Linked DNA regions of Homo sapiens. The protein of the gene in region 3 purifies or fractionates together with the protein of the main gene of each other region. This does not show direct contact. Each region holds a gene or a part of one and is shown on either strand. Other genes may lie near its edges.

Evidence for each region. Proteins that work in one complex are often made in the same cells at the same time.
Region 1: the proteins of RHPN1 (region 3) and PODXL purify together in Homo sapiens (co-immunoprecipitation; 3 studies listed by BioGRID and IntAct, with this or other methods). This does not show direct contact.
Region 2: the proteins of RHPN1 (region 3) and PTPN21 purify together in Homo sapiens (co-immunoprecipitation; 3 studies listed by BioGRID and IntAct, with this or other methods). This does not show direct contact.

What each region holds. Positions count from the first base shown.
Region 1 is NC_000007.14:131,504,510-131,512,106, forward strand, and holds part of PODXL (podocalyxin isoform 1 precursor), read right to left. Parts: intron 6,925-7,597; coding exon 6,319-6,924; intron 5,823-6,318; coding exon 5,727-5,822; intron 5,077-5,726; coding exon 4,856-5,076; intron 4,520-4,855; coding exon 4,442-4,519; intron 2,218-4,441; coding exon 2,070-2,217; intron 1,813-2,069; coding exon 1,751-1,812; intron 1,527-1,750; coding exon 1,359-1,526; intron 1-1,358. UniProt on the Homo sapiens protein: Involved in the regulation of both adhesion and cell morphology and cancer progression. Functions as an anti-adhesive molecule that maintains an open filtration pathway between neighboring foot processes in the podocyte by charge repulsion.
Region 2 is NC_000014.9:88,474,889-88,482,485, forward strand, and holds part of PTPN21 (tyrosine-protein phosphatase non-receptor type 21), read right to left. Parts: intron 5,465-7,597; coding exon 4,032-5,464; intron 1-4,031.
Region 3 is NC_000008.11:143,364,011-143,372,269, reverse strand, and holds the start of RHPN1 (rhophilin-1), read right to left. Parts: upstream 3,395-8,259; 5' UTR 3,283-3,394; coding exon 3,223-3,282; intron 3,191-3,222; exon of another isoform or gene 2,477-3,190; intron 2,446-2,476; exon of another isoform or gene 1,573-2,445; coding exon of another isoform or gene 1,564-1,572; intron 1-1,563. UniProt on the Homo sapiens protein: Has no enzymatic activity. May serve as a target for Rho, and interact with some cytoskeletal component upon Rho binding or relay a Rho signal to other molecules.

The sequences.
Region 1 (7,597 bases), on a different chromosome or scaffold from region 3:
TAGAGTGGGGAAGGTGACCGGTGAGAAGGGGGTTTCAGAGGGCTCTGAGCTTAATACAGCGCATGTACGTACCCCTCCCACTCAGGAGCCCCACTGTAGCTAAAGCAGGCCCTCATTGCTCGCCTGTGGGGCTGGCTGCTCCTGGTGGTCATTCTGGCTCTCAGCCTGCCCGGAACTAGTTGGGAACAAAGACTTGCCCCTCACCCTCACCCTGGTGGCAGAACCTGTGAAGTTAGTGGAGATGGACTTTGTTCTCCAGAGTCCTCTAAGCTCTCTCCTCCCCTTCATCCCTTCCCCCAAAACCTCCTCTCCAGGCACCTACCTCACCTATCATAATGAATGGGAAAAACACTATTAAAAAATGACCTCTCTCGGGCTGGGTGACTGAGCCCTCAAGCCTGGGCAGGATGGGTACGGTGTCTCTAGAATCATCCCTGCGGCAGACAGCAGCCATCTGGCAGAGGCGCTTTCTGTCCCTCTCAAACACAACCTTGAGTGTATGCTAGAATCACCTGGGGAGCTTTTAACAACTACACTGATGGACTCAGAGATTGTTTGAATTGGTGTGGGAGGCAGTCAGGCAAGGGAATTTTTCTAAAGTTCCCCACGGTGTGCAGGCAGGAGTGAGAACCACAGGGTCTGGGTGGCACCATCATGGCGAGAATTCTAGTAAGGTAGGCAGAAGAATTTTTGGTTAGACAGAACACCTAGGCCTGCTTCTATCAATGAATCCTCAGACCAGCTCTGCAAGGAGGTTATCCCTGCTGTGCAGATGAGGAACCTGATGCCCAAAGAGCTCATCTGACTGACTTCCTCAAGGTCAGGGCCAGGACTAACCAAGTCTCCCTGACTCCAGTCCAGGCGTGGTGACTCACACCTGTAATCCCAGCACTTTGGGAGGCTGAGGCAGGCGGATTGCTTGAGGTCAGGAGTTCGAGACTAGCCTGGCCAACATGGCGAAACCCCATCTCTAGTAAAAATACAAAAATTAGGCGGGCGTGGTGGTGGGCACCTGTAATCCCAGCTACTGGGGAGGCTGAGGCACAAGAATCACTTGAGGTTGCAGTGGGTGACACCAGCCTGGGTGACAGAGCAAGACCCTGTCTGAAAAAAATAATAATAATAAAATAAAAAATAAATAAGTCTTCCCGACTCCAAAGCCCACGCTCTGTCCTCTGCCACGCTGCCTCTGTAATGCTCTGTGGACTGAGGCGGCTGCCTATCAGGGGTGGCCTCTGCCTGTTAGAAAGGGTCCAGGGCCTGCTCCCTTTCCTCTTCTGCAACTCGGGAATCACGAGGGGAGGGTTCCTCTGGTGACCTGGGCTGCTTCCCCTGTGTGGCTGCAAACAGCTGCTTACCTGGTCCTTCCTCTGGGAGAGGCGCTGGTGGCAGCAGCCATAGAGGGCCGCCACGAGGAGCAGGAATGATGCCATGCAGACGATGGTGATGATGAGGGGCATGCTGAAGCGGTCCTCGGCCTCCTCCGGTGGCCCCTGGTCCCCTAGCTTCATGTCACTGACCCCTGCCTGCATGGGAAGTGGCAGAGAACAGGCTGGGGGCATCCTCTCTCCCTCAGCCCCCGGCTTCACTGTAGAGCCCCTCCGCTTGCAGTCTGCTAGGGTCCGTGCCGCCGCCCTCTTCTACATGCAGGCACATGACGGGGTTCCTCCCCACAGAGAGAGGGGAGTAACCAGACCTCCCACAAGGGGCTTCGGAGCCACTCTGTCCCCACACTTGGGGGGCCGCTTACCTCCTTTAGTTCATCCCATTTGTCCTTCAGCCGCTCGTACACATCCTTGGCAGGGAGCTTAGCTGTGGGAGAGGGAGACGATGCCCAATGGCCCAGCCCAGAGCGAGGCAGTGGGGGACGGGGACTGCGCCCCAAGAGAGGGACGCACCGTATCTCAGTCTCCTGAGTGTCTCTCGGGTGACCTGGGAGGGGGTGTGGCTTGACAGTTCTTAGGGAACTGAAGGGGCACCACTGTGACCCACCCTCCAATGTGGCTTCTGCATGCCCCCCATTCCCACCCATGCAGGCCCCAGCCCAGGCCCCCTTGCCCTCCACTCACTGTGAATAGTGATTTCTTTGACGACCACGGTCTGACTTCCTGGAACAGATGCCAGCCGTATGCCGCACTTATCTTGGGCCGGGTTGAAGGTGGCTTTGACTGCTCGGCATATCAGTGAGATCAATTTCTCATCCGAAGCGCCCCCTGCCTATGGTGGGGAGAGCGCAGGTGACTCCGCGGGGAGCGTGACAGCAGCCTAGGCCTGTGGGGCTGCCCTCCCAGCTAAGGTCGGGACAGTGCTGTTGCTGTGCTAGAACCTGCCTCCCTCTCTAGCCCCAGCTGGTGCTCCACGCAGGCCTGCCAGGAATCAAGGGTTGCATGCTGTTCTCCTGGGCCAGTTCCTGCCTCCTCTGTCTCGTTCCCATCAGCCCGTTCTCCGCACTGTGTTTATCTGGTCTACGCTTGCACCTTTCATTCCTTTCACCCTAGTGCCTCTTTTTTCCCTCCAAGCTGTTTGCGGATTGGGGGTTGTTTTCATCTCCCTCCCTAGAACGGGCTAGAGAGGGGGCACTGCACAGCAACCCTACCCCACAGCCCGCAGGGAGACTCCAATTCCCCCTAAACTCCCATTCACCAGCCTTTCATGCCCAGTTCGGAGAAATCAGGTGGGGAGGCTGCAGCTCTCAGCAGAAGGGTCTCTACCCCCAAAGCTGAAATACATGTGCCCTTGCCCTAGGCAGAGCCTCTGGCTCTGAAGCCACGGACAGGCTGACAGGGAAGGGGCTCCACTGAGTAGGGGAACAGGTGGGATCTTGAAGCTACCCCTAGGATATCTTGGAGGGGGTCTTATTTAGCTCTAAGAACAAAGATTGTGGCTGACGTGGCTTTAGAGCTGAGGATGAGGGGAGAAGTGTGGGCAGCATGTATCCAGTCCTGCCATGCCATCTAGGGGCACCCCTCCCTGGGGCTTCTCTGACCTGATTCTGGAATAAATGACTAAGACAAAGAAAAGGACTCTAGGGATAGCTTAGCACAGAACCCATACAAACCACCCCTAAGGTTTCTACCAGAATTTCCTTAGGCTTAGTAATTCCCCACCCTGACATCAGGAAGGGATCCAGGGTTTTCCATCTTCCTTTTCTAGCAAAGGGAAAAAAAAAAAAAGTGTCTCACAACAATCACACAGCCTACCAAGCTACATCCAAAAAGAGGGTCTGAGGAAGGGCTGGGCGGGCACCTGACTGTCCCCAGAGCCCATATCATGCAATGCCTGCCTTGTCCAATAAGCCCAGCCCTAGGAGAGCACTGCTCCCTTTTAAAACTCTGGTCTAGATGTAGGCTTTTGTAAAGTTCACTTGGAAAATGCCGGCATAATGGACACCCAAAAGAAAACAACTGCAGAAAATTCAGGCAGCATTAAAGTGTTGTAAGCCCAAATTCTCCATCCTATCTATAGACACCGTGTTCAGGTCTGTTCTAGTTCTAGTTCCTAGGGGGTGGCTGCAAAAAACCGGCACTGACCGGGAGAGGGCAGCAGTGAGCCAGCCATCTCCAGCACCCGCCGCGCTCGGCAGTTATTTACTGAGTGTGCACAGCGCACACTCCCCAGACCAAAGCCTTTGGACCCATGGAGACCGGTGGCCTGAAGGCTGCTCACACACTGCTACCTCCCTCACACAGGTGTGCTCACACGCACGCTCACCACCCAGACTGGAGAAATGCTGGCAGTGGCTCCTGCATTCCTGGGCCCTTTTCTCTCCCACCCATCCCATCAGCTCCTCAGGTTAGAGGGAGAATCTCCCAGCACTGTTCGTCCATCAAGGCTCTCAGATAGTCCACAGACCAGGAAATGTGAAGCCACAGACGATTAAAGCAGACAGACTACACCTCTCATTTTCTCTTGCTTTTCTTTTCTTTCTGTAAAAACAGGGTCTTCCTATGTTTCCCAGGCTGGTCTTGAACTTCTGGCCTCAAGCAAACTTCCTGCCTCAGCTTCTCAAAGTGTTGGGATTACAGGTGTAAGCCACCACACCTGGCCTCACCTCTCATTTTCAATTGAGACATCTGAAACCCAAAGAGATCAACTCACCAAAGTCACTCCCAGAGCTAGGGGCAAACAGGAACTAGGATCAGGGTCCCTCAACTCAGCATACTGGAAATAGTCACACAGTGAAAGCCGAGGAAACCGGGGGGTGGGAGGGGGGGGTCCAGTCCTGTGGGTGTGTCCTGACTTAGAGAAGTCTTAAACCTTGGTCTGTTGCTCTGTAAGATGGGAAAGGACCACTTCCTACTAGGAAGAAATGAGGGCCGGAAAGCAAATGCACCTTAGAAAGATGTTTAAAAATGCACCTAGAAAGAACATACATTCCCTCTCCCTCCCTCAGCCCTGCTGTGAGCCTGCACCTGGCGGCTCAGATCAGCAAGCTACTCACACAGAGGGTGTTTCCTGTGAGGTTCAGGACGAGCTGCTTCTCACTCTGTGTCTGTGTCTCAAGATCCTCACACTTTGCCTGGAAGAAGCCACTGAGATTAAGGTTTGGGCTAATAGTCATGGAATCTTTGACATTTCCCCCCAACTAAGGGGTGACCCAGATAGGAAAGAGTTCACGGCAAGCTGGAGGCATGGCTGGACCCATTCCAGAGCCAGGTATGTCCTGGCTGCGTGGCTTGAGGGCAGCTCAAGCCAGGACCAGGCTAACCAGGGAGAGGGAGGAGGGAATGGGTAAGTGCTGCTCAAAGCCCCAGCCAGGGGCCCTGCGTTGGAGGAAAGAACAGAAAACCTTGTCTTAAAGCCTCTTCTACCCGAGTCTGGGTTCTCCTACTTGCCCCACCCCTGCTGGAGTTACCCAGTTACTCTCATGAGCCACAGTGGGAGAAGGTGTTTTGGGGTATCGGTGGGTAGTTGATGCTGCTGTGGGGCTGGAGCTCATGGTCTCTGGCAGGGTAGGTGTTCTCAATGCCGTTGCCGGGCTCGTGGGCTGCACTGTCTCCTGGGAGGAAGGGGCCGTAGAGCTGGCTGGCATCTGACTGGAGGTCTGTTGAGTTCTTTGCGAGATAACCGATGACGCTGTCATTGGGAAAACGAGGGTAATGAGAAAAGATGAGTGCACCCTTGCGAGAAGAGGACAATCTTTTCTTGCTCTAATAGTTTTCCCAGGTTCTTTGGTCTTACCTCCCACAGAGACGGAAGAAGTGGACTCCTATGACAAGCCAGTGGAATAACCCGGCAAAGTCACAGCAGCCGCAGCAAACGTTCACTGAGCACTTAACTTTGTGCAAGGGACTGGGTGCCTCAAAGGTACTTTCCTACTGAATCCTCACAATCCTCTGGGGAAGGAATCGGCATCATCCCTATTTCATAAACAAGGAAACTGAGGCTCCGAGGGGCTCAGTGATTTGCCCGAGTTCCTGTGCCAACAATGGCAGGGCAGGGATTCGAAGCCAGGATTATCTCAGCCGGAGCCCGCACTCCTACTGTGTGGCACCCTCCTGTGGAGCGGTGGCCTGCTGACTTCAGACCATATGCCTCTGATATGCAGCAACATCACCAGGAGCGCTCAGAAACTCTGGGTCCACAGGTCTGAGATGGGCCATGATCCTAAGGCTCTTGATCCATAGGTAGATTTTGAAATTGATTTACTAGGTTAAGACAAGCTCTTATAAATAATAAGTAAGTAAGTAAGTAAACAGGTATCGGCCGGGCATGGTGGCTCATACCTGTAATCCCAGCACTTTGGGAGGCCAAGGTGGGCAGATCACCCGAGGTCAGGAGTTCAAGACCAGCCTGGCTGACATGGTGAAACACTGTCTCTACTTGAAAAAAAAAAAAAAAAAAAAAAAAAAATTAGCTGGTGTGCTGGTGCACACCTGTAGTCCCAGCTACTCGGGAGGCTGAGGCAGGAGAATTGCTTGAACCCGGAGGTGGAGGTTGCAGTGAGCAGAGATCATGCCACCGCACTCCAGCCTGGGTGACAGAGCGAGACTCCATCTCAAAAATAAATAAATAAATAAATAAATAGGTATGAAATAGAAACTATTCCCCTCTCAGGTTCAAGCAATTCTCCTGCCTCAGCCTCCTGAGTAGCTGGGATTACAGGCGCCTGCCACCATACCCAGCTAATGTTTGTATTTTTAGTAGAGACAGGGTTTCGCCATGTTGGCCAGGCTGGTCTCGAACTCCTGACCTCAGGTGATCCACCTGTCTCGGCCTCCCAAAGTGCTGGGATTACAAGGCATGAGCCTTTTCAGAGCCATCACGCCTGGCCCTGAAAAGTTTCTTGGTGCTTGAAGAAAACCAGGCATTACTTACGTAGGGTGGTGGTCATCCCCGGGCTTGTGAAGGTGTAGCCAGGGATAGCCACAGTGCTTGAACTGCTTGAAATTTTCATAAGATGGTCATGTCCCGAGCTTGTTGGGGTGGCCACAGGATGCGTCGAAGTGGGTTGTCGGGGGCTAAGTGGACTTGTAGGGTGAGGGGTCGTCAGATGTTCTGCCTTAGTGGATGTGAGGTCTGTGGTCACACTGTGGCTGCTTTTCCCCCCAGAGTTTGTTGTATCTTCTGCTCCATTCTGGCTGCTTGTGGTGTTAGGTTTAGCTGTGGCTGTGGAGGTTGCAACTGTAGTGGTGTCTGCACTTTTTGTGCTCTTGGGGCTCTCGATGGTGGTAGTAGGGTTGCCTGAGCCGCCTCCTCTAGCCACGGTAGTGTTGACTGGGCCTGAGACTTGCTGAGCCAGGGTTGTAGTCCCCGGTGAGTCACTGGATACACCAAGGGTGGTCGCCTTGACCGAGGCCAAGATTTCGTTGGCCTTGGAAGTGGGGACTGTGCTCTGCTGGGCTGTATCTGTAGCCATGATGGTGACACTGGATGCTGGAGTCGGTGCTGTTTTGTTAGATGAGTCCGTAGTAGTCTGGGTTGCTGTTTGTAAAGATAACAGAGAATGGAGTTAGGGCTGGGAGGCTTCCTCACCACGCTTCTCCAGCTCTTCCCCAGGATTCAGAGGCCTTGCTCGCAGCCCTGCTGTCTGCCTTGCTAAAGGCCTGGGTCTTTGGTGAATCCAGAATTTTCGGAGGTTCAAGAAACCTCTTTTTTCTGTCTTTTTTTTTTCTTCTTCCTTTTTGTGGAGAATGGGGTCTTGCTATATTGCCCAGGCAGGTCTTGAACTCCTGGGCTCAAGCTATCCTCCCGCCTCTGCCTCCCTCAGAGCTGGGATTACAGGCGTGAGCCACCACGCCTGGCATGAAACCTCTAAGAGGGCAGCTTGGAGTGCAGCAGGGTCAGAAAAGCAAAATTCTGCTGAAGGCGAGCCCAGGCCAATGAGGCCCACCACACGTGGAGGCTGTCATGCATGCCCTGCCCTCCCCGTCCAGCCCCACACACATCCCCTTTAAGTTTCTCAATATGCTACCCCAGAACCAGCTGCCAGGAACACCTCTGTCTCCTCCTCCCCAGCTCCCAGGCACGTGGCCCACAGAAAATTCCACAGACTAATGCTTCCTGAACTGCCCTGGCCCTGTTCTGAGCTTAAGCAAAAAAGACATGGGCCCTGTTCTCATGGAAGTTATATCTAGGAGAAACTGATGATAAACTG
Region 2 (7,597 bases), on a different chromosome or scaffold from region 3:
TGAGACCATCCTGGCCAATATGGTGAAACCCCGTCTCTACTAAAAATACAAAAATTAGCTGGGCGTGGTGGCACATGCCTGTAATCCCAGCTACTCGGGAGGCTGAGGCAGGAGAAAGGCTTGAACCTGGGAGGTGGAGATTACAGTGAGCTGAGATCGTGCCACTGCACTCCAGCCTGGAGGCAGAGTGAGACTCCGTCTCCAAAAAAAAAAAGAACACTAAGTTTCGTTGGATATACTACACTTCCTTGGATGATATCAATATAATGAGTAGCCCCAACTGGAAAATAATGGTTCTGCCCTGTAAACAAAATCCGTGTTATTCCAGCTCTCTCAGCCTGTAACAGGCCATGAAGCCCCATGATAATGGTGCAAGAACAGAGGGAAAAGGCAACTTGGTGAGAGAGGAAAAAAATCCTAAAAGATTGCTGCTGTAATTGGAGACTGTGATTGGTACCTAACTCAATAAGCTAAGTGGATTAATTTTTAATTTTATAATTAATATTTGATCATGAGCTCCCCACATAATGCAGTCTAGACTATAAACAGCAGAGGCCTGGGTTCACATCTGGCCTCTAACTGACCAACTTCTTTCAGGCAAGTCACCTTTCCTCTGTAAGCCTCACCTAGACAGAAAGAGACAGATATATCCAGACACAGGCATACAGACTAAACACTTCCTGCTTAGGCTGAAATTTAATGATTCTAACGTGCAGAAAACAGTGATGTGCTGGTAATATTTAACAACAGGCTCTTGGAAGGAAGTTTTGATCGGTGTTTGCCCATATCCATGGTGTAAATACTCCCATCACAGCCAATTTCAAACTGTTAATGTCACATCAATTGGCTCACAAGGTTCCTGAACATTTAAGTCGGCTCTTGCTAGTCAATATGAACTAGCTCTGGCACTTCTCTGCCTGAAAATGACTCAAAATATCCCACACTGGGACACGCTGGATAAAGCTGATTGGCTGTGAGGTCAGTTCAAAAGCCAGTATTGGAAGAATGTTGTATGTAGTCAAAACTAGCCTTGAATATGCCTTAATTAGCCCTTAGAATATAAGCACAGGATTTTAATGCATACCCTGCACAGTGATTTCTTATGTGAGAACCACTGCACTAAAGGGTACAACAAAAAGAAAATCTTTATGTAGATATATGAGCACCCAAACCAGTCTGCCTTTAAGATAACAATCAGGTTGCTGGAGGTGGAGATGGGTGGAGAATTCTAAAATCATTCCTACTTGTCTACAGTTTATTTCACTGTTTTTAATACTAAACCTCCATAACCTTAATTCACATTAGGAAATTTGTTGTAACGATTAAGATAATGGCAACCCCATGTTACTATGAAAGGTCAGAGGGTACAATAGGGAATTGGCCTCTTCCACTCTTGAAAGCCATTAAGTTAAATATATGATGCCACCTCACAGTAATGTTAATATTGACTAATCTCTTTCAATGTGCCAGAACCTCATTTTTATCCCCCCAACAACTCTCTGGGGTCCTCTCATTTACAAATGTAAAAACTGAGTCACAGATTAAATAGCTTGTCTGAGGTCACATGGCTGCCTCTTTTACAAGGTAATCAGTGTCAAAACAAATAAAAGCAAATCTTTGGTTAAAATCAGTTACACTGAATCATGTAATTCAGGAGGCATTTTTTCATGCCTAACTGCATGTGGGACATAATGCCACGAAGCAGGCAGCGAAGGGATGACCGTCCTCATGATCTGAGGTTATCTGATGTGGAAGCTGAGGTTCTGACGCATGAAGGGTCCTGACCGTGGTCACAGAGAACTAACAAATGGCAGGCTCTAGACTCAGCCCCAACGTTCTTAACTTGTAGGACCTTTGCTCTTTCCTCGTGACCACAGCTGCCATACCCATTCCTTAAGTAGAATCCTTTAAGCAAAAAGGACCAAAAACATAATCCAATCACATAATTTTACTAGTATTGTGGTCTTAAAAGTCAATGGGAGAGAAAAGTTCTTTTAAGAGAACCAAATTGATCAAAGTCCTCAGATTTAACTGAACCTACCAGACCCCATTCAAAACATACAGGGATAAAATAGGCCTGAGTACTGAGCTGTACTCAGATAGCATTTGGGGAAAGTACGTGAGTCACACATAAAAACAGACCGTTCTTAATGCAATGGGAAGGGTGTTAACTATAAAAGGACCCTGTCCAGCTGGCTCAGGGATTCAGGTAGAGTTACTTTGGAAAATCTACCCACACCTTATCCTGAATCACTGCTCCCTACACTCTTAAATCTGTGTCCACTGAAGGCATTGGCCTTTACTGTTCAGGGATGTGAGTTATGTTGCATACTTGTGAAAAATTTAAAAATCAACTTAAAATTCAAACCCAAAACTTATTAAAAGAAAGCAAATTTAGGCCAGGTGTGGTGGCTCACACCTGTAATCCCAGCACTTTGGGAGGCTGAGGCAGCCAGATCACAAGGCAGGGGAATCGCTTGAACCCAGGAGGCAGAGGTTGCAGTGAACTGAGATCACACCACTGCACTCCAGCCTGGGCAACAGGGCAAGACTGTTCTAAAAAAAAAAAAAAAAAAAAAAAAGCAAATTTAAATCTGTGGTACTTTTTTTGTTAAGTAGTTTTTGTCTATGTACATTAATCTCTTTCATAAGTACTATAATAGTGTGCGTTTTTTCCTGTTTAGCAAGATGTTTGCAGCATCTTAAAGGATGTCATACACTAGGCCAGAACCACACTTGAGATGAGCCGTCCTGTCGGAGTTTGCAGTTTAGCAGCGATGGGGGGAGGAGAACCCTAGTTGCCAGGACACTGGAAGCCAACAGGAGATAGGATGGAGGCCCTAATCAAGTTAGCCTGGCTCAAGTGCAGGGCATGAGGAGTGGAGATGTGGGCCAGGAAGAGCTGGAAGCCTGAGCACTGCAACAAAATCACTTCGGTGGACACACTTCATGACAAGGCCGCAGATGCTTAGTCCCAGGTTAAGGACTGAGTTTAAAAGTTTCAGTGAAAGACTAGCAAGGCTTCAACAAGCAATTATGACTTAATAGAACATATACAGTATACTTCAATGCAGAACATACATCTACAGTGTAGATGATAACAGAATGGGCTTCTAAGTATGGGTTTAAAATTCCAGTTCAGTCACTCACTAGTCATGTGACCTTGGAAAAGTTAGTTAATATCTAAGTCTGTTTCTTCATCTGTAAAACAGGCATAACAATAGGCTTACTGTAAATAGGCCACAAAAGTAGAGGAAATGCTTGGCCCATGGCAAATGCTCCAAGGATGGTAGCTAGAGATGATGCTACTATGCTTTTTTATATTTTGCTTCAAAGTAGGTAAAAAGTGCTTAATTCATATTTATTTATTAGGCTGAATATTAAAGAACTGCATCTTCTACCGGGGACTTTCCTTAGATTCTCAGCTGAATTCATCTTTCTTTTAAATTTAAGAAACCTGGACGTCTCAGGATTTGCCTTAACAAAGTGCCACCTTCCCAACTCCAGAATCACTCTGGAGAATCACGGCCAAGATATGTAAGCTGTATCCACACACACTCCAACCTGGAGAATTATATTAGGATTGGGTACACTTTCCTGGATGCTTTTTTCAGATATCTCTTGAGCAAACTAAACAAATGCACCCCTGGGGTGCCACATCACCCACAGTATTTTTAATGGGTGGCTAAAGCAATCGTGGCTAAAGTAATGAAATCTTAACTGTCTTTCCCTTAACAGTGCATTACTAAAACATTTCATTCATCTTTTCCATTTCGACAAAACCCTGTGAATTTACCTTTTCACTTCATCTATAATAATTATCTCCAGTAAAACCACTAAAATTCAAGTGGATCCCCATGATTTCCATAAATTTAAATGTGTTCAGAATTAGACAAAAAGAGAGTGACGTGGGGGAATGAAGAACGTTAAAAGAACAAGAGGAGCTGAAAAACACGGGACGTGATGAGTGAAAGAAGCGCCAGGGCGAACGCGCGGTCCCCTGGCCCGGCACTGCTCGCCGCGTGGCTTACCCCTAGAGGCGGGAGCCCTTCCACGATGTTCTTCTTCCCAGAGAGAAGGTCCGACACCGGCCTTTTCTTCAGAGAGTCCCTCCGGGCTCGGTAGCGGCCTGACGTGGTGAGGTCGGACTCCGACATGGAGGGCATCAGCAGCCCGTCTCTCCAGGGCCGCTGGGCCTCTGCGGTCGTGCGGACGGGGCTGCTGTCCATCATCCTCTTCTCCGCGTCTGGGACGTGGGCCTTGGGCTCCAGGATGTGCAGGGGCCCGGCGAGCAGGACGCGAGGGCAGCCAGGTGGGTCCTGGGCCAGGCCGGGCCGAGGCTCGCGCGCACGTGCAGGAGGCGCCCGGGCCCCGCTCTCCTCCTCGAAGTCCTCGTCCTCCTCCTCCTCGCTGCTGTGGATTAGCATGGTGGCGTCCGACAGGGACTTCTTATGGCCGTACCTCAAGCCCTCCGCCTCCTCCGGCCCTTCTCGCTGTGTCCTCTCGGTGAAAACGCTGGGCTGGGAGCCCACCGAGACGGCTCGCGGCGCCACCTCTGCCGCCGACGCGGATAGGGTGCGCTCCTTGAGCCGCAGGCCCTCCAGGCCGTGGCTGAGCCCGGCCACCTCGATGCTGTTCCGTTTGTGCAGCTGCGCGTGGCGCGCGGCGGTGAGGGGCTCGCTGACCTCCTGCAGCGAGTGCGCCACGGGCAGGCTGTCCTCCTGGAACGTTTGCACCGAGTGGTGCACGCGCCGCGTGATGAGGTCGGGGTTGCTGCTGCTGATGTAAAGGTGGCGGGACAGGTCTGGCGTGCTGTTGGCGGGCCTGGGGGGCGGGTAGGGTGGGGGTGGCCGGTACACCTGCGTCCGCATGATGTTGGGAGACGGGTAGTCCTGCGCCTGCAGCTGCGCATTGGTCAGCTCCGGCACGCTGACCGCGCCCACCACGGGCCGCCGCTCGGCAGGGTAGGGGTAGGGAGACGGGCTGTGGAAGCTGTAGCTCAGGCTGAACGGGCAGTGTGCGGCCGCTGGCGAGGGGAGCTGTGCGTGCTCGCGGATCTCGGGCTGGCTGTAGACCAGCGCCGCGGGCCTGCTGTAGGCGTACGAGCTGCCGATGTTGAGGTTTCGCAGCGAGTGGCTCTGCCGTTCCGCATGCACCAGGCCCCTGTTGAGCTGCTTCATCACAGTCTCATAGTCTGGGGTGGGGCGGTAGGACGGGGGTATCACGGCGCTGTGCCGATGGGACGGGAGGTAGTCAGGCCTCATGACGTCACTCCCGGTGATGCTAGGGTTGGACGACATCGGCGAGGGCTGCAAGTAGGGCTGAGGATTATTTAAGGAGTTGGTGCTGTGTGCACTGTAGACACTGCCATTACGGATCCGACCGTTGAGGTCAATCTGGGCTCTATCCAAGCTTGTCTGAGAGTGACAGTAGTATCCGTTCTGGTTGGGCACAAAGAGGTTATCTAGAAAAAATGAGTTCAAAATGAGATTTTTTTAAATGGACTAATTACTCCAACCAAATACTGAGATCGGCCCTTACCTCTGATGACATTTTTAACACAGCTTGTAAAAATCCCCGCTAGAATGACCTAGCTTTAGCCACACTATCTGAGTGACCCTGGGAGCTTCGGCTTCCTCATCTATAGGATGGGCATGGCTCTGCCTACTTAAGGGGTGGCATTCATTGGGTGACAAAGTGAGACCCTGTCTTAAACGAACCACACCCACAGCAGACTAGCAGACTTTTTGGAACTCTGGGGAAGTTGAGGCAGAGATACCATTCAAGGCACTGGGCTGGGGACTCTGCCTTTCTTCCCTGGGTAGGGATGTGGCCTTGCTGCTGCTGAGCTAGTTCAAGCACCAACTGTCTGTAAGCATTTCCTTAACTGGAAATTTTTATTGTTCTTCCCAAATGAATATGAGAGCTTCGACTGTAAAAGGGTAATGGTATAGCAGGATCTGAACTTCTCTGGTCCAACAGTGTCACCAGCAGCCACACAGCCCATAAAGTGTCCAGAAGCCAAGAGGAGCCACATTAAACAGCTGCAGCTGCCCCCTGCCCTGGCCCCCATGTTTCAGGAAGATCCAGACCTGCAGCTAACAGAATCAGTTTAACCTAATCTTAAAATAGCTATGCATGTGTCCCTGCCCAGGGATGACAGGGGCCATGTTTCTTCTAGTCAATTTGTAGCTCACCTGCCCTCTGTTACTGAGGATGATTTCTAACCCTAGATGATTTCTAACACTCAGCAGCCAACTCCTTCAAATAACAATTTCCTCTGAAAGGCATTCTTTTTGTGCTTCGAAAGCTCCATGGTGATTTATGTGATCATGGTGATACTTAAGTAATACACCACAATCCAGTGGGTACACTTTATTCTGGTGGCACATGCAGCTGTGAGGAAATAGCACTCAAATCTCCATGGTATTCTTCTGCTGACACACAGCACTTCCATGTCACTGTGCTTTCCTCATTTATGCAAAGCTTGGTCATGGCTCCATCTCTGCAATCCCCCTTTCCTCACTGCTGCCACAGCTCGGGCCCCTACCCCAGCTTGTCTGAACTAGCTCTATATACACCTAGTCTCCCTGCTTCTGCACCCCACAAACCATCTAGCCATTTATGAGACTGTTATGTGGAAAAGGCAATACTAAGAATAGAAGGAGGAAAAGATGGTTGGAATACAGGCAAGAAAAGGGGAAAGGTATGCATGAAATCACCATAATTCAAGGAAGGGAGAAGAGATGAAGGGTTACAGGAGTCCAGAGGAAGAAATGCTCATTTCCAGCCTGAGTTGGGTTGATGGGGACAAGGAAGAGAGAACCAAGAACCACCTCACAAGATATGGCAGTTAAGGGGACTTGAGGGGTAAGTGGGTGGGGTGGGCGTGTCCAGCTTCCATCAGAAGTGAGGTCTCTCCACCTCTCAGAGCACGCAGGGTTACCCCTCCTCACCCCTTGATATCAGGCACAACAATGCGACTAGTAATGGTCAAGGGAAAGTGCACAGAGGGTTAAAAGCCAGCTTCCAGGCTCTCTTCCAACTGCAACACTGACCAACAACATTCCAGAGAGAAGAGCCTCTCCAGCTCAAGCCCCTACGGCAGACTCAGACAGGGCAGAGCCCTCCTGCTAGTACAGTGTGCAACGGACAGGTGACCTTTATTATTACTTCCCTGAGAGTTTGGAATGGAGTATTTTGTCAGCACAGCATAGCCCTGCCTATCCGGTCTGCATGGCAGCATGTGAACGGAAGGGTGCATGGGGTAAGGGCACCTGAGGGTGCAGAGCGGCACTGGCAAAGCCAGGGTGCACCCCTGGGCAAGCTGGGGTGGCTAGAGTGTCAGATAGCTACAGAGGAGTAAAATAACTTGGGAAGTAAGGTTGGAAGGGCAGGCTCAGGGAATATTGTGTGGAGTCTCGAACACCAGGCAAAAGAATGATCCTGCACACAGCCGTGTGCAGTGGCTCACACCTGTAACACTAGCACTTTGGGAGGCCAAGGTGGGCAGATCACCCAAGGTCGGGAGTTTGAGACCAGCCTGACCAACACGGAGAGACCCCATCTCTACTAAAAATACAAAATTAGCTGGGCG
Region 3 (8,259 bases):
GGCCTCTGCCCAGTACCTAGGAGACCCCCGTGCCACCCACCGCAGCTACACCCCCTCCCCGCAAAGGCCCCGCTGCAAGGCTCCAGCAGCTTTAAGGGCTCTGGCTGTGCGACGGGCATCAGACACCCAGCCAGGTCCCTGCTCCCCTCCTGGCCCCAGGAGAGCTGCGGGGAGCCTGGCCCCTTGGAGCCCCACAGGCACCTGCTGTGGGCCTGGTCCATTCCTCGGCCTCCCTACCCGCAGTGCTCCCTGCAGGCCAAGTGACTTCCCGGCCTACAGGCGGAGGAGCAGACCCGAGCCGGACCTTTGAGGCTGGGTAGACCTTGGAGGTGGGCGGCCCATGCCCCACTTTCCACACTGGGTTGAAGGTTGAGCCCAGTGGAAGGGGCATAGACACAGGCGTTCAGGCCCCTACTCCTGCTACAACCTCCCCACCCTCTGGAGACAAAGGTGACCTGGAGCTCCCCACCCCCACGTCCACGGTGCCCTGACACCCCACTGTGGCCATTTCCGCCTTGCATTAGGAAAGGACAGAGAGGCTGTGGTCTGTGGGGGTCCCGAGAGGCAGCCACACATGAAGGGCCTGGCCATGCCTCGATGGAGAGGGACGAAGAACAGAGAAACAGCCCCCCAACCCTGACACTGGGGCTCCTCTGCCCAGGAGGAAACAGTGTGGCCCTGGCCAGAGTGGGGCTGACCTGGGGACGGGCAAAAGGCAGAGATAGTTATCCCAGCCCAGGTCTGGGAACAGCAAAACATCAGAGCAGGGCCAGACCTCCACTCTCCCCCAGGATCCCCTGGCCCTGGGCCAGGCAGTCCCCAGGGAGAGGTCACCCACCTGGAGCAAACCAGCTTTTTCCCTTCAGAGCCCTGGCCCTGGGCACCCTGTATGCTGACAGCCACCCATCTCAGGTACCCCTCTCCTCTGCCCCCACTGAAGTCTCACCTGAATGCAAGAACTGGAAGCCCCAGGAGGGTGGAAGCCCAGCACCCACCTGACCCACCATCTCTGCCCCCCACTGATGAGGGAACAGAATTCAAAGGGCATTGCTGCACAGGTGTCTCCTGGGACACAGGGCTATAAGCAGCACGCACGCCAGAGGAATCATAGACTGGCCACTCACGGCAGGGACTCCCACTCTCTCTGATGCTCCCTGGGGTACCCAGGCACTGGTGCTTCCTGAGCACCCCTCTTCCTGGAGCCCAATCTACCTGGGCAGGGGCCTGGGAACCTGTAACCAGCACCCAGAGGGTGCTCCTGTCCAGCCAGGCTGGGGAACCTCAGGCTGACCCACTCGGCATGCTGGAGACCAGGTGAGGGGGGCACAGCCACCCTGCCCACCTGCTGCTCCAACGCTCTCCCTCTGCAGCCTGCTCCCCCTTCTCCCACTGGCCTCCCCAGGAAACCACAGAACCTTCTGCATACAGCCAGGCTGTATTCCTTGTGGTCCTCCCCCGGGAGCCCCTGCAGCCCCTGCGGGAGGGACGGCAGCTGGGTTGGCCACCCTGGGCCGTGCCAGGCTTCTCCCCTTCCCAGCTTGGCAGCCTTGGCCACTTACTCACCCTGTTCATCAGACGGGCTGAGGCCCAGGGCTTGGGAGGCACCAATGGCAGGACTCCAGCTGTAGCACTGGCCCTGGCACCAGGTAAGCGCTTGCTGGAAGCCTGCTCTCATCACGCCTGGGGCAAATACAAGTCACCCAGACCTGTCCACAGGGCCTCAGGCCCAGGTGTGGCCTCTAAGTGGATGAACGACCGACCCCTGACCCACTGAACTCTGAGCTTTAGGGCCAGTTTGGGGGCCAGCCTGATGGGGGTGGAACAGGCCTCACTCTAGCCCGGCAGCAGGCATCGGGGAAGACTTTCCAGATGGCAGGACAGCCTGAGTGGTGCGCGTGTGACACAGGGCCTGCCTCCGCCCCACTGCCACCTCCCACGGGCCCCTCCCCAGTACCCTGACTGTGGGGTCATTTCTGGACGCTGTGAGAGACACGGCAGCCTGGAAACAGCTTCTCCCCAACTTTCCAAGGTGGCAGCCCAGGGAGGGCCAGGACAGGGAGCCCAGGCACAGCCCCCAGCCTGAAAAGCGTCACCTCCGGAGCCCTCTGGGACATCTTGTTTGTACAGCCTCCCAAACATTCCACCCAAAACAACATGTGCCGTCCCAGGCCACCTGCAGGCATGGCCGCCCTGACAGAGCAAGTTCATAGGGGGCAGGCACAGGCTGCCTCTTTCCCTCCAGTGCCCAGGAGGTGCTGCAGCCTCTGGCACGCCTCGGGGTGGGCAAGAAGGGCGTCCTTGAGGGCTACGGTCAGCATCACCAGCCCAGTGACCTGAAGCCAAACCCTGGCTGATAGCACCGCCTCCTCCTCTAGGAGACCTAACCCCAAACACCAAAGCCGAGTAGAACCAGCCCAGGGACAACACAGTCTGACGTCCCAGAGGGGAGGAGGGCCGCGCGCTATCAAAGGCTCACCCGGGGCGAGGAGCAGGAGCAGCCCGCGGCTGAAAGCCCGTGGCGGGCGTGGGCGCCCAGGGCCTGGCAGGAGGACTGGGGCAGCCTCGAGCTGGTCCGCAGGGAACAAGCAGGCTCTGGGCTGCAGAGCAAGGCCCACAGACGTCCCCTCCTTCCCAGGCACAGACTCAGCAGGTCTCCACAGCCCTGCCCACCCCTCCCACTTGCCCAGTCAGCACCCCGGGTTAGGGACTTCAGAAGGGAAGGAGGTTTGGGAAGTGAGAAGAGGCCAGCCGGGAAGACCTCTCTCGGTTTCCCATACCCAGGAGGCTTCGCTGCCCGCTGCTACCAGTGCACCCAATGGGCATGCAGTTCCTGAGCGGATGCAGAGGGAGGACCGAACTAGGGAAGGAGGCTGTACAGGTGCCGGAAAGGAACACGATGGCGGGTGTGGGGAGGGCGCTCACAGAGCCCAGCCCCACATCCGCCCAGAAGGGGGACACGAGGAGGGCGTCCCCCCAACCCGCTTCAGCGGTGAGGATGATCCAGACTTTGGCTGTCCGCATTTCCCGGCTCACATGAGTGGCCTGGAAGCACCTCCACCGAGCTCAGAGGAGGAGGGACGCAGGCTCTGGCCTCAGTTTCCCTGCCTGCGTCCGGGCCGAATGAGACGTAGGAGGGGGGCGCCCGGAACGCGCCTCGAGGGGGGGCAGGAAAAGGCCGGGATTCCGGGCCCCTCCTCCCGCCGCCGCGCCAGTTCTGCGCACCTGCAGCCGCGGGCTCTCCTCGCCGGCGCCCGCGCCGTCCGGCCTCTCCTCCAGGATCATCGCCGCACCCGCTGCGCTGGGGGTCCCTCGGGGTCAGCCAGCCCGCCGCTCGCGCAGCGCTCCGCAGCCGGGCTAGGGCCGCCCGCACCACCTGGGCCGCGGGCTCCTGAGTGCCCGCGCCGGTCCCCGACTGTCCCTCCTGAGTGGGGGCGGCCCGCGGCGCGGCTGGGCGGGGCACGGGTCTGGCGTGCGAAGCTGGCCATTGCCCAATAGGCGGCAATGCCGCTTCGACGGACAGCTATATCAGCCAACCAGAGTTCCAGGAAGGCGGGCTCTGGACGGCCAGCTCCGCCCGCCCGCGGGACGGTAACCCCTGGCAACCGCGGCCGGAACGCCCGCGGCTGGCTGGCAGGTTGTACTGCGCATGCGCCGCGGCGGCCGCTGAGCGTGCGGGAGAAGTTCGGGAAACGGAGAAAAAAACTATACGGAACGTCCCAAGCTGAGAGTCAGGGCGGACCTGGACTCGGCGCGCCTAGCTCCTCGGCTCCCTTTGCGGGGACTCCAGGAGTCTGCCCGCTCGCGCCGTTTCGTCCTGTCACCCCGGCAACGGGACCCTCTAAGAGGCTTGTTCCAAAAATGTTCACAATGGGGTTTTTAAAAACGGTTTTGTTAGGGACAAGTGCTTGTGTGAGTCCTCCGACAATGCCTGCTTTCTTCTCTCTGCCCGCGGAGCGGAGGCTCCAGGCCTGGCCCCAGTCCGAGGCGCCTCTGTCGGTGTCGTCCTGCTTCCAAAACCGGCCTCCAGAACCCGCCTCCTTCCAGAACCTCCGTCCAGAACCCGCCTCCCTCCAGAACCTCCGTACAGAACCCACATCCTTCTAGCACCTGCCTCTGGAACCCACGTGCTTTCAGAACTACCTGTTTGTAGAACTTGTTTCCAGAACGAACCTGCTTTCCGAATCTCTTTACTTCCAGAGCTTGTTTCCTGGACTGACCTATTTTCAGAACCTACTTTCAAAACCAGCTTGCCTCCAGGACCACCTGCTTGGAGAACTGGCCTGCAGCCCCAGGACTGGACGACCTGAGACTGCACAGCTCCCTGCGGGGCTCACCCGGCTGTGTGTGTCCTTCCGGGCCTTCCATACTTCCCTAGGTGTCTGGTGACTCCGGAGCCCGCTCGGATTTCGTGTGGGTCTCGCCTCAGCTCAGAACACACCCTTTGAAGAGCAGGAAGGCCAGGGCACAGGCGGTAACCACGGCTCCTGGTCATCAAGTTCCTCTGAAGCCCAGGTCTTGTCCACGTTCACTGCCCCACCACAGGCCCAGCGGAGCCTTGGAGCTGAGCCCTGGGATCATTCTGGTGCCTGTGCTCCCGGCTCCGCAACAAGCACACAGGAGCCTGTCATCCCCAGATCTAAATCCTGAAGGCTAAGCTCCGTGGTCTGCCGCAGCCATCTGCAGCAGGCCCCTCCCAGCAACAGCCTTCTCATAAGGCCCCTGCCAGCCACGCGAAACCTCCTGGCTAGGGCCTGTCTTCCACTCCTGGCCTTTTGAGACAGGGCCTCACTCTGTTCCCCAGGCCGGAGTGCAGTGGTACGATCACAGCTCACTGCAGCCTCCACCTCCTGGGCTCATGTGATCCTCCCACCTCAGCCTCCTGAATAGCTGGGACTACAGGCTTGCACCACCACACCCGGCTAATTTTTGTATATTTTGTAGAGACAGGGTTTCGCCACATTGCCCAGGCCCAGGCTGGTCTCAAACTTCTGGGCTCAAGCAATTCATCTGCCTCAACCTCCCAAAAGTGCTGGATTACAGGGATGAGCCACCATACCCGGCTTTTTTTTTTCTTTCTCCTGGCCTTTTGGGGCCCTTGAAGTGTCTGCTCCCTGGGAGCCCTTCAGCTTGTCGTCCACTTGGTGGGTTCCCACCCGTCCTTCTCACTTCTGCCTGAATCACACAGGCTACATGAGACCTTCACCCACCCCCTTCGCCAGCAGCTCTGTGGTTCAAGTTTCCTCAAGGTTAGGGGCTCCTGGCCATCTTACCTGTGGGCCTGAGCATGGGCCGATGCTTCCAAAGTTCACACTGGGTGCACTTGTGTGGGGACTTCCATGTGAGTCATCTCCTTGCAGGCTGCCAAGGTCCTGTACAGCAGAGACCCAAACCCTCTTAGCAGTCTTCAGAGTCAGCTATGTGTACAGGAGGCATTACCATATCAGTGACTGTCAGCAAGCATGTGTGACTGAAATGGTATCCAGTTCTTACGTATTTGTTTTGCAGGCTTCTTGGTTCAGCAGACAGAGGCCATTGGGAAGTTAAGAGAGGCTCTCAAACTTTGAGGGTCATAAGACTTCCCCTCCCTGCAGGGTGCTGTTTCCTGAAGGAAAATATTCAATTACTATTTTCTTTATTTATTTATTGAGATGGAGTCTTGCTCTTGTCGCCCAGGCTGGAGTGTGTGCGTGTGCGTGTGTGCGTGTGCGTGTGTGTGCGTGCATATGTGCGTGTGTGCGTGTGTGTGTGTGTGTGTGTGTGTTGGAGGGGGGTGGTGCTGCCTTTTTCTTTGCATGCTTCTGTGTTACTGGATTTGGCACAGCAAGAATGTATCACTGCACTCAAAAAATTTAGAGTTTCCTTTTTGTTTTTTTAAATTATTTTAGATTTGGAGGTACATGTGTGGGTTTGTTACATGTGTATTGTGCACTTCTGAAGTTTAAAAATTTAGGGGGAAAAATGAAAGGATGGGAGGTGAGAAAGTAGAGGAGAATTTTGGTGTGACAGGCAGGGAACTGGACAGCGGCGGGAGGGGCACGGCAGTGAGCGCCGGGACCTTTTGCAGATGAGGTGATAATTGCTGATGGGGCTGCTTTATGCTCGTTTTCTCTTTTGTAATTTATAAAGAAAAAAAAATTGAGACAGGGTTTCGCCCTGTTGCCCAGGCTGGTCTTGAACTTCTGAGCTCCAGTGATCTGCCTGCCTTGGCCTCCCAAAGTGTTGGGATTATAGGTGTGAGCCACTGTGACTGGCCTTTTTTTTTTTTTTTGAGACAGGGTGGCTCTCTGTCGCCCAGGCTGGAGTGCAGTGGTGTGATCACAGCTCACTTCACTGCAGCCTCAACCTCCTAGGCTCAGGCAATCCTCCCACCTCGGTCTCCCAAGTAGCAGGGACCGCTTGCATGCGCCACCACATCCAGATAACTTTTGTATTTTTTGTAGAGATGGGGTCTCGCTATGTTGCCCAGGCTTGTCTCAAACTCTGGGCTCAAGCAATTGGCCCACCTTGGCCTCCCAAAGTGCTGGGATTACAGGTGTGAGCCGCTGTGCCTGGCCTGCTTTATGCTTTTATATGGACCAGTACTTTGCAAGTGTGAGCCTGGCAGACTCTTGCTGCAACCAGGAACATGCAGATTTTCCAGATGGGCAGGAACCTGGGCTCCTTTCTGAGCCTCCACATGTCCTGGGTGAAGACCTCAAGGTCTGGAGAGACTGACTGACTCACCCAAGGCCCAATGGCTGTGAGCGGGAAGCCAGGACTCCTCACAGCGCCAGCTTCTTCCATGCATGCCAGCCCATCTGCAGAGCCCGGTCAAGCTCAGGGGAACGCCACCACTGAACCAGAGAGGCAGCCAGGAGGAGGGGGTCTAGATAGAGAAATGTGGAAAAAGCAGCTGATTCCAGAAATTTCCTGCTTGGCCTGGATTAGGCCATGCTGGGGACTGGCTGCCCCTTGCCCAGTGGGTGCTGGGGCATTCAGGCTTGGGGTCTTTTAGGTCAGCCCTAAAAGTTGATGATTTGATGCTGATCGCTGGTACTTACTTCAGCTTTCCTTCTGGTTGGAAGCCTTAATTAGTGGAGGTTGCTGACACTGTTTATGCGCATCGGTATTTTTTTAGAATGTGGAGTGGAAGAGGTGGGCTTTGGGGGACTGGCTAAACCCCAAGAATTTAACTGGCCGTGTATTTTGGCCACTGTTGCGCCTGTTAAGATCTTGGAGTGTGGGTTTGCACCTGTATTTAGAGGTGCACAAACCCACACAAATTCAAGGATAAATAACTGCAAGGCCCGAAGAGAACACGCTCTCCCGCTGCACGCAGGCTGCTCAACTGTGATGAATGGAGTAACAGGTACCACAGGGCGAGCAGGACGCCTTCATCAATGGTGGTAATAGCCACCAATGCATCATCTGTGGAGGCAACAGGAGGGACGGCTGGGGCAGAATCAACAGAACGTGAAAATGAATTGTTTGTAAATACAATCAACAGTGTTATGTTCGTGAGAAAGCCATTCATCATTCAGAAACCACCTTTAGTAAAAGATGCACCTGGCTTCCCGGTGAGACGGGGCCATCAATCCCTCCCCAGTCACAGGGTCAGCTCGGGGCTGCCTAAACCCCCAGAGAACAGACACACATATTTATTCTTATTTGAAAATAAGAGTTGTTAAAAAAAAAAAAGAGCCACTGAGAACATTAGCTTGCCGGGAGCATGGTAGAAGGAGCCACATGGGGACAAAGAGAGCTCTTTAAAGCCCTCATCTTCTGGGTGCCCTGCCAGGCCCTGGTGGGGCCTCCGTAAGCAAGGAGCACCCAGCCTGCTCTGGGACCTTCCCGGGCTGTGTGTGCTTATGTCCCTCCCGGCCGCTGAGGGACCTTCCCAGGCTGTGGGTGCTCATGTCCCTCCTGGGTGCTGAGTGTGCTTAGGGAGGGAGGGAGGGAGACGCCCATGGTTGGCCTGCTGGCTTCTGGAGAACTGCACTTTTCTGGCAAATAAAAAGAAAAGGATATGGGGAAGGGGAACACATGATTGTCCTTGGAATGTGGCAGAGTGGCCTGCTGTGGACTTTCCTCTGGTTGCCAGTTTCATTCTTAGGACAGTGCCTTGGTGAGGGTGCCCCGGGCACAGCACACTGGGTTTCTGCAGTGGGCACTTACTGGCACTGATCCCAGCAGCTGGATGCACCTGTGGCGTGTTTTATACAACTGAAGCGACCATGGCCTTCTGTGGTCCAGCCTGGTGCAGAGCCCACCGCCATAGAG